Homo sapiens: one gene and its partners. The protein of the gene in region 1 interacts with the protein of each later gene in a biochemical or structural test. Each region holds a gene or a part of one and is shown on either strand. Other genes may lie near its edges. The genes, in order: KIF14, TUBG1 and CLK1.

What was found.
Region 2: the proteins of KIF14 (region 1) and TUBG1 interact in a test that uses a peptide from one of them, tested with the Homo sapiens proteins (one study listed by BioGRID).
Region 3: of the proteins of KIF14 (region 1) and CLK1, one has a biochemical effect on the other in vitro, tested with the Homo sapiens proteins (one large-scale study listed by BioGRID).

The regions. Positions count from the first base shown.
Region 1 is NC_000001.11:200,610,624-200,614,277, reverse strand, and holds part of KIF14 (kinesin-like protein KIF14), read left to right. Parts: intron 1-3,654. UniProt on the Homo sapiens protein: Microtubule motor protein that binds to microtubules with high affinity through each tubulin heterodimer and has an ATPase activity. Plays a role in many processes like cell division, cytokinesis and also in cell proliferation and apoptosis.
Region 2 is NC_000017.11:42,612,683-42,615,892, reverse strand, and holds the end of TUBG1 (tubulin gamma-1 chain), read right to left. Parts: intron 2,947-3,210; coding exon 2,820-2,946; intron 2,247-2,819; coding exon 2,160-2,246; intron 2,045-2,159; coding exon 1,895-2,044; intron 1,634-1,894; coding exon 1,481-1,633; intron 1,398-1,480; coding exon 1,236-1,397; intron 1,050-1,235; coding exon 852-1,049; 3' UTR 655-851; downstream 1-654. UniProt on the Homo sapiens protein: Tubulin is the major constituent of microtubules, protein filaments consisting of alpha- and beta-tubulin heterodimers. Gamma-tubulin is a key component of the gamma-tubulin ring complex (gTuRC) which mediates microtubule nucleation.
Region 3 is NC_000002.12:200,858,088-200,861,741, forward strand, and holds part of CLK1 (dual specificity protein kinase CLK1), read right to left. Parts: coding exon 3,615-3,654; intron 3,380-3,614; coding exon 3,151-3,379; exon of another isoform or gene 2,129-3,150; coding exon 2,038-2,128; exon of another isoform or gene 1,660-2,037; coding exon 1,593-1,659; intron 3-1,592; coding exon 1-2. UniProt on the Homo sapiens protein: Dual specificity kinase acting on both serine/threonine and tyrosine-containing substrates.

The DNA of each region.
Region 1 (3,654 bases):
AAAATAGTCAAATCAAGTTCAAATCAGTCATGGCCACTAAGGAAATACTTAATGGAAGATCAGTTCTAATTTGTAGATCACTCTTCTTTGGAACAGTGGTATGGAGAGGGAGGGTGGAAATTCTAAATTCAGAATCAGTTTCACCTAGTGGGCAGTGATAGTGAAGTCATCTCTTCTGTCTTTTCTCCCTTGTTTTTGCTTTACTTTTGTGTATACGTAGAGGCTCACAAACATGGTAGCTATGTGCTGTTATACGTGTGTTTGTAGTCAGATAGGTGTACAGTTTAACTAAGGACAGCAGGCATAACCTTTTGGACAACGTGAATCAGAAAGAGTAGTGAAATTGGGATTTGAACCCAGAGTTGACTTCAAAAGCCATGCTTTTTCCACTCTACTACACCTGAATAGGCTGTACTGGCTTCCTATTTCACTTATTCATTTACACATTCAGCTACCTTTTACTGAGCATTCTGCTGTTGCCAGGCAGCTTGTTAGATCAGTTTTTTTTTTTCTCAAATTTTCTTGGTCATAAGAATCACCGGGGATTCTTGGCAGGGACATATATGTGCATGTGTATGTGTATGTACACACTTGCTAAAAATCTCTTCTGGGGGTTCTGAGTCAGTTGGTCTGGTGTAGAGCTTGGGATTTTATAATTTTCATGCTTTTCCTCCAGTATTTTTTATGATAAAGGAAATTGGGAAAATTGTGCTAGATTAGGGGTGTGGAGTTAAAAGACCCAGTCCCTGTATTCAAAGGAGTGTAGTGGGAGAAATAAGTTAACAGCCAAGTACAATCAATTAAATGCTAAACAAACTAAAGTAGATGCTCTAATAGAACATGTAAGTGAGGACATATAAAGTTGGAGGGAGACATTCTCTCAGAGGAAGGAGCAGCTGAGCTTATTTTTGAAGGATACATAGCATTATTAGCTTGGTAAAGAAGGGGAGAAGGATATTCCAGGGAGAGGGAGCAGCATGTACCAAGATTTGAAAGCAAAAAAGTAGGGAGCCTTTGGGAATCTATAAATTGTTCACTGTGTTTTGAGCATGGAATTTGAGGGTGGAAAGTGATAAGAGAAGAAACTAGAGGCTGGGTGCGGTGGCTCATGCCTGTAATCCCAGTACTTTGGGAGGCCGAAGCGGGCAGATCACCTGAGGTCAGGAGTTCGAGACCAGCCTGGCCAACATGGTGAAATCCTGTCTCTACTAAAAATACAAAAATTAGCCAGGTGTGGTGGCACATGCCTGTAATCCCATCTACTTGGGAGGCTGAGGCAGGAGAATCGCTTGAACCAGGGAGATGGAGGTTGCAGTGAGCCGAGATCGCGCCACTGCACTCCAGCCTGGGTGACAGAGCATGACTCCATCTCAAAAAAAAAAAAAAAAAAAAAAAAGAGAATAAACTAGAAAGGCCTGCAGAACTTGGCTCATGAAGGACTGTCTTAGTAAGGATAACTGGTAAGACTTGCTGATTATTGGAAATGGAGGATGAGGGAGAGAGAAATCAATGTTTCTGGTTGGACAACCAGATTAGATATCGATGTCATTTTTTGAGATCACAAGAGGAAAAGTAGATTTGAGTAATTGATGAGTTCTGTCTCTTCTGTGGATATACTGCCTCTCCTCTGTCTTCTTCTACCCTCAACCTCTCATTCCCAGTAATTAAATTGAAAATAGGAGGAGTATGGGGATCAATAGAAATATGGTGGTATTGAGACTATGAGATGAAATATGATTCAAGTCCAAGTTTAGTGGGCATAAGAGAAAGCTGTGGGCTTGTGGGGCAGAGTTCTCTATTGGCTCTCCAGATTTTAGAGGGATAGTAATTTGAAGGTAAAGCCAGGAAGACATAGATAAGTGTAGTGGAGGCAAAGGTCTTTGGAATGATTTCAAAGGACTAGGAGGCTCAGATTTTGCGTGGAATGACTATGTCATTGAATAACATAGTGTAATGAATGCTTAAGAGCCTGGTTGGCCAGGCATGGTGGCTCACGCCTGTAATCCCAGCACTTTGGGAGGCCAAGGCAGGCGGATCACCTGAGGTCAGGAGTTTGAGACCAGCCTGGCCAACATGGTGAATCCCTGTCTCTACTAAGAATACAAAAATTAGCCAGGTGTGGTGGTGGGCGCCTGTAATCCTAGCTATTCGGGAGGCTGAGGTAGGAGAATCGCTTGAACCCTGGAGGCGGACATTGCACTGAGCTGAGATCATGCCACTGTACTCCAGCCTGGGCGACAGAGCAAGACTCTGTCTCAAAAAAAAGAAAAAAAAAAAGAGCATGGACTTTGGAGATACATTATTTGAATTTGAATCTCAGCTTCATCACTGCAGTAGAAATGTGATCTTGAACAATTTACTTAATGTCTTTCTGTGTTTCAGAACAGAAAATAGAGATTATATTGACAATGTCTTTCTCATAGGTTTGTTGTGAGCATTAAATGAGTTGATCTATACAAAAGGTTTTGAAGAGTGCCTGGCACATAGTGAGCCCAACTAAATGTGGTTATATCAACTTTGGAATTAGCCAGGATGGTAGAGAATAATAGTATGTGGATGGGGGTAATAGAAGGTGGTATAGCGAGCATGATGGCAGGAGCCTCAGAGGAGAAGAAAAAAGTAGGACCTCTCCAGTGTGGCCCCAGCTACCTTTTCCAATTTGTTTCCCACACTACATTTTCATTTCTAAGTCCTCCTGGAGCCTCTATAACATAAAATACTATTTTACATAAAATAAGCATTATTACGTGTTTATTGAATTCTGACAGCCCCCATCCCTGTTCATAGCATTTGTCAATGACCTTATAATTACTTGGTGTTCCCTTATACCTGGTCTCTTTGGAAGTGTTTTGTTTCTCTCTCATGACACCAGCTATATTCTGCCTTGTATTACTCATGTACTGTATTGCATCTCCAATTAGCTTCTGAGTTTTTTCAGGATAAAAACTATGTCCAGTTCATCTCATATTTTCCCACAGCTCCTAGAAGAGTGCTTTGTACCTAGTAGGGCACAATAAATATTTGGTGAATTGAACTTAAATCTCTTTGACACTCCCTTGAAGCTTCCAATTCTGTTAGATGCTTGCTGACTCACTTCTGGGTCAGTGGATGAAATTTATTTCTCTAATAAGGAAACCATGCCCTAACTGTCAGAAGAGCTGTTTGGAAGCAAAGTTTCCCGTTTTTGGCCTCTACACTGTATCTTTCAGAGTCAAAAGGAGGAGAAGCTCAGCCCACTTAATCTAATGATTGCTTTCTCTCCCAATCAGGAAGAATTGTTGATTTAAGGTTCCATCTTACCAGATCAAATGTCAACCTACAGGGTGTCTTTCCTATTCTGAGCACATGTGATGCACAGATGCTGCTGTCCTTGCCCGAGAATGCCCTACCCCCTCTTTCTGGTTCAATCTACTCTGTCTCTCATGCCTCACATTCTATTTACTCCTTCCCTTTTCTCTGGCCATCCTAAATTTTCCCTTTTCTGATTAGTCATATTTATAGTCATCTCATTTTGATTCTTAATTAATTTTCTATTGCTGTGTTTTATCTATTGGAAGGTATGTTATATGTCTCTGAGATCTTAGCCTCATGAGCAAGAATCTTGTCTTATACTTCTTTATGTCCTGACAATAACCTAAAGCCAAACATGCAGTA
Region 2 (3,210 bases), on another chromosome or scaffold:
AAAAAAAAAAAAACAATCCTGAAGACTTAGGCCCCTATGTATTTACTACCTCCCTGCAATCTTCCACCAGAAGTAGAAGGCACTGGCCATTTAAATTACTGGCAACCACTAGAGAAGAGAATTACGGTGCCTTAGCTATGGAACCACTTATGATCCTGCTTACAGTCTAGGTTTTAGATTTGGTCGCTGACTTGATGCTGCTAGACTCCAACTGCCTGAAACGAGCGGCTCTCCTGGACTGCTTGCTAGAAGCTTAAAGGTATTGGGTTGGACTCCATTGCTTGTTCATGGCCTAGTGGCAGTGGTGGTGGCCTTGGGCCTCAGGTTGTGATTAATCAGACACTCTGATGTGGAAACATGAGGCTGGTGGAATATTCACCTGATACAGTGAGGGTGGGAGGGAACGGGGACCCAGAAAGGGTCAGACAGAGAACAAAGTAATATCTCTGGGCCTTTTTACCCTGGAAAGGAATTTCAGGTGGGTCAAACCCCACCAGCGTTCTCCAAAACTAGGCAGAGGAAAAACCTAGGGGAAGCTGTTGGTTCAGAATTGAAGATGCTGGAAGTGGGTGAGGACCCTGTCAGAATGATGGAGAAAGAACAGGCATCCCCACCGCATCTCCAGAACCCAAAGGCTTTAAAGGGAGCAGTGACTTGATTTATATCCAGTGCTTTATTAAAGATAAATAGTCTCATAAGAGGAGAAGTAAATGTGTTTGCAGGCCAACAGAGAGTCCATGTATATGAGAAAGAGATGCGTGAGGTCCCTGATCTGTGCTCTGAGGGGGTGGTCAGTCAGGCAGGGCTTGGGCCAACCAGTAAGGCAGATGAGGGTCCCTGTCCTGGGGGACTCACTGCTCCTGGGTGCCCCAGGAGATGTAGTCTGGCCGTGTGGCCGCATGGTACTCATCGATGAGCTGCTGCACAATCTCCCTGGATGTGTCCATCTCATCAAAGTTGTCCTTGAACATGTCCTCCTTGCGGAACTGCTCCAGGAAGGCCTCCCGCTTACGCAGCTTGTCATACTGGCGACAGGTTCTCTCGAAGAGCTTGGGGTGTGCAGAAAACAGGGGTTACAAAGAACTTCAAAGAATAACGTGGCCCAGAAAGCTGGGGAACCAAGGCTGGGCTATGCCCACAGCAAAAAAGCTAGAAGCAGGGCCAGCAGATGCAGAGAGGTGAGGTATAGTCAGGAAACTGATTCAGGGAAAAAAGGTGCAAACTTTGAGACTCACCGAGGAGATGCTGGTGTGGTTGGCCATCATGAGCCCGCTGACCCGGTGGGCCGAGGGCAGGTAGGGAGACTTCCTCGACAGGGCCACCTGGATGCTGGCGGGGCCCCACGGGATGAAGTTGGCCAACTTGCGTTCCCGGATCCTCTGCAAGCTCTTGTGGACCTGGGGTGGGCATAGGAGCAGTGGAGGTGGCCTCTCCTCTACCCCTGCAGGTCCAGGGTGTGGGATGAAGGGGCCTCCCCTACCTGGGTGGGGTCCACCTCTCCCTGGATGATGTTGAGGATGGCGATGTAGCAGTGGTTGGTCTGGCGGTCTCGGCCTGTGGACACCATCACGTTCTTGGGCTGCAGCAGCCGCCTCATGACATCCAGGACCGTGGTCTTCCTCACGCTGGCCACCTGATAGGACAGTGAGACAGGGACCCGGCCAGCGCTCAGGGCACAGTCCCCCTTTGGCTTCTCTTTGGCAGAAGCCAAAGGCAGAGGGAGGGTGGAGAGCAAGTCAGCAAGAAAGTCGCCCACTCTGTGCCAGTCCCTGAGCGCCGCGCCTTGGGGTCCACAAAGGGTAGCTCCTGGGGCAGTGGGGAAGAGAGAAAGGCTAGGACAGGGCCTGTTGGGCCCAGGGCCGGCCTGGCCTGGGACACTGAAGGCTGCTCTTACTGACTGGTCCGTAGTGAGAGGGGTGTAGCCGGTCATGAGGAAGTGGAGCCGTGGGGTGGGAATGAGCGAGGCGATGAGGCCGATGAGGTCATTGTTCATGTAGCCAGGGTAGCGCAGGGTGGTGGTGCTGGCTGACATGATGGTAGACACCTGGGGACAGGCGTGCCATGTTATGGGCCTCAGCCTGGGTGGGACCTCCCTTCCCCAAATGACCCTCCAACAAGGAGGGCTTCAAGTCCAAAGGAGTCCAGGAGTGGGGGCCCACCAGCTGGTTGATCTGGGAGAAGGATGGGTTCTGGATGTGCAGGCGGTCTGTGGCAATCCGGTTCAGGGCTGTGTTGTCCAGCACCACCTGGGGGGACAGAAGAGGATCACAGATCAATGGGGATAAGAAAAACAGGAGCTCTGCCTGACCCTAGGCTCTGAAGCTTAATTTCCTTTGAGCTTCATGGCCAGAAAGACTCACTGGAAAGAGATTTGCACTGACCTAGGGCAAAGGAGGGCTCAAAATGGATTTTTAAATTTTTCTTTTCATCTTAATTATTTAAACAGTTTTTTTTTTTGTTCTTGTTTTTTGAGACAGGGTTTCACTTTGTCACCCCGGCTGGAGTGCAGTCAGTGACATGATCTCAGCTCACTGCAGCCCCTGCCTCTGAGGCACAAGTGATCCTTCTGCACATATCACCACTCCCGACTAATTTTTGTATTTTTAGTAGAGATGGGGTTTCGCCATGTTGCCCAGGCTGGTCTCGAACTCCTAAACTCAAACGATCCAACGACCTTGGCCTCCCAAAGTGATGGGATTACAGTCATGAGCCACTGCACCTGGCTAAAATGGATTTTTTTTAAATACATGAAAATGATTTAATAGACTCGAGTGGGTATGGGGTGTTGAGAGTTGGGAGAGGTAGAATCCAGGACTCACCACACAGTCTGCATTCTGCGTCAGCCTCTTGAGTGTGAGGAGTGAATTGTAAGGCTGGACCACCACATCGCTCATCTCGTCCTGGTTGGGAAACACTGAGTATGTCTGCACCAGCTTCTTAGGATACCTGGTGGGGGTTGGGGAAAGGATCAGGGCAACAGACCGAAGGCCTGGTGAACATGGCGCTCCCTAACAACTGTCCAGAAGCAGATAAATCTTGATGGCGAAACTGGGGTGGGGTCAAATCAGTAGAGAAGGGAGCCTTGACTTTTGGAAGTCTGTAGCCCTACAGGGGGAAGGGCAGAGACATCTTAGACTCTGGGCTTCCAAATTGAGACCTGGCCACACTCCCTCGACTTTCATCCAGGGCTCAGGTTCTAGGCTCCAGTTC
Region 3 (3,654 bases), on another chromosome or scaffold:
CCCTGTTAGAAAGATGCATGCAAATTTAAGAATGACAGACATGATGCTCAATTCCAGGTATTACTGTCTTCAAACTGTACTACTACTCTGACCCACTGTATTTTTTTAATTTATGGTTTAGTGTTCAGTTCTGATTCTATTACATGCTGAATGACACAAATTTCTTTCATCAAACCACCACTCACATGAGTTATTTTTTGGTATTTCAGCTAAACAACTTCTTCCTATATGGTACCTGTCACTGTCAAACATTATCTCAAATGTTCTTTTAGTCCAGGTTGCCAAAAGAGTTAGGATACAGTGGGGAAAGAGTAAAGAGCTCTAGGACCGGGAGCAGTGGCTCTCACGCCTATAATCCCAGCACTTTGGGAGGCCGAGGGTAGTAAATCACTTGAGGTCAGAAGTTCGAGACCAGCCTGACCAACATGGTGAAACCCTATTTCTACCAAAAATATGAAAATTAGCCAGGCACGGTGGTGTGTGCCTGTAATCCCAGCTTCCTGGGAGGCTGAGGCAGGAGAATTACTTGAACTCGGAAGGTGGAGGTTGCAGTGAGCCAAGATTGCACCACTGCACTCCAGCCTGGGCGACAGACCAAGACTCCATCTCAGGGAAAAGAAAAATAAACAAAAAAAGAGCTCTAGCTCTCATGTCCTTACCAATCAATAGTAGGAAGCCCCCTCAAAAATGCTTTGCCATTCAGGAAGAGGAAGAACAATAACAACAACAACAACAACAACAACAAACAGGGAACTAAAAAAAAAGAGTAACGGAAAAAATTCTATACTATCTTAAGAAATTTCATGGCTGGAGCCAAGCGCTCATGCCTGTAATCCCAGCACTTTGGGAGGCTGAGGTGGGCAGGTCACCTGAGGTCAGGAGTTCGAGACCAGCCTGGCCAACATAGTCTCTACTAATACAAACAATACAATACTAATACAAACAATAGCTGGGCATGGTGGCGCGTGTCTGTAGTTCCAGCTACTCAGGAGGCTGAGGCAGAACAATCACCTGAACCCGGGAGGCAGAGGGTGCAGTGAGCTGAGATTGCGCCACTGCACTCCACCCTGGGTGACAGAGCGAGACTCTGTCTCGAGAAAAAAAAAAATTTCAATCAGTAGTTTGATAAACATACATAATTAAACTTGGGACACCAAGTTATCTCCAGCTATGTTATCAGAATGAATTACAGCACTTCCTAAAAATATAGATTCCTAGGTAACTACCCTGAAAAGGTCTGGGGTAGGCAAACCTCTCGAGGAGGATCTTAACATAAAACCAAGGCTGAGAACCACTAATATGGTGGGGGAAAAAAATATGGCCTAACAACAGTGTCCAGTTGAACAACAAAACAATACTTTCAAAACAATATAAAGTGTGTTCTCAGCCTAAAATTAGAAATTATACATACTATTAGTAGCTGTTTAAAAAATATGAAGGGGCAAGTACCTCTTAACTGGAAGTGTCTTACATCCAAGTAAAAAAGGGTATAAAGATATGTATCTAACTCATGGTCAGACCACTTTCTAAAGCTAAATCAATTACCTGTATTGCCAACTTCCCTAAAAGTAATCCCAACATGGGAAACTTACGCTTTATGATCGATGCACTCCACAACTTTTCCAAAAGCTCCTTCACCTAAAGTATCAACAATTTCATCTAAAAGAGAGAAATAAATCTCAGTCATATCAAGAAGTGGAAACAATGTACTTATCACAATAAATGCTATCAATGTAGATTATTCTAGTTGATGCTACAAATTTCCTTATCACTAGATATTTTATTGGTCAACACCATCAAAAAACATAATTATTAGGTCTAATTTCATTAATTTGATTACTGTTCTGGAAGTTCTATATAACAAACATTACATTTCTAAAGAAAGCAAAAATACAATCCCCCCCACCAAAAGAAATGGAAAAATAAAACAAAAACAAAAAAGAGAAAGAAAAAAAGATTTCCAAATCCCTGAAAGCTTAATCTATATATAGATTATGTTATCTGAAAAGTTAATAAGTGTTGAAAAATATTCTATACATCTTGCACTTAGTACGTCTCCACTCTGACAGATCAGGTGACCCTCCTCATCATCCTCTACACTCCTGGTTCTTTTCCTTCGGTGACTCTTCTGGAAACGTCAAGTGGGCGGCACCAAGATCATCCAGCCAATCAATATACCCGAGTGAATTCAGGGCAGAATACGAAATTCATTCAGCGGGGAGATATTCAGGCATTCAGATACACGCCAGGCCACAAACGGTTGGCAGGAGCAATTTCAAATTCAGTCCCCAGAAATTCACAGGGCACATAGTTTATGTTAACAGGAGAAAAACATGGCAAGGAACAGATTTTCAGATAAGATACTCAAAGTGGCAAGGCAACAAAACATAATACAATTGTTTTTCTTAAAAAAAAAAAATGCTTAGTTGTAGCATTCACTGAAACATAATTTTTTAGTTTCTAGTGTTCTAATTTAATGTTGCAAAATCGTATGATGTAATATTTACTTGTCAAAGTAGGCGGTGGCCAAATTAAGATTTCCTACCTAATCTAAGAAAACAAATATTATAACAGTAAATAAAATTAAAGTGCTAATTTTGGGGAAAAAAAGATTTGGCATACAAGAATAACACTACGGCATTTTTAATGTCATCTGAGCTGATCTCCATACTAATATATAACCCATAACAGTTCAAATCTGTTCTGGTTTGCTTAGTGAAAGAAGGGTTAGAAAACATGACTTGTTAGAACAAAGAAGCATACCTAATCCTAAATTATACAAAAATAAAATGCCCTGTTCTACTTTTGTGATTTCAATAGATCAAAACTAATCAGGTTTCTTGAAGTACCACAAAAAACCCTTTTAGAATATTTTGTAATAATTTTCAACTAATCTAAATTAAATCAATTAACTCCCATCATTTCACTGGAATGTCAATTAGGAGCCAACCAATAATTAAATTATAGAACTAAATGTGTACTTTATTTCCGGAATTTCCTATCCAATGCACAAACACAGAAAAAATCCTGCAGGTTAAAACTGAGATGATTTCATCTTAAAACTTTCTCAAATAATCAAACACAAAAATTCAAGTTTCCCTGTTCCACATGGGATATAAAATTTCCAAAATGTTTTAAAAACGTTCATACCCCATGTGAACGACGATGTGAAGTACTGTGGTGAATCCTGTGTTTGCTTTTATAACTACTTCTTCCACTTCTACCAGAAGACTTGCTACTATGGTTCTGATACCGGCTTTCATGGTCTCTTTGGCGATGTCCAGGTTCACATCCTTGAGTGTAGTCATTTCTGTACTCATCAATGTAGCGTCGACTATGATAATCTTTCTCATTTATAGACCTGCTTTCCAAATAATGGCTAGAGAAATAAAAATTATTTTCAATGTTTTATGCTAAGACCAAATATCCTCACATTCTCTTCAAGACAGCACCTAGACTCCCCCACAAGCAGCTTAATTTTACAAACATTACAAACCATCAAAATCTCTCATTGGAAACAAACGAATGGTAGTAATCAGGTACTTATTTTAAGTGATACTAGTTTTGTCTAGTAATGTATTGTTATATTCAGACATTTTAAGTATCCTCCTTACCTATCACACATTTTAGAGTGATTGTATTTGCAGCGCTTGT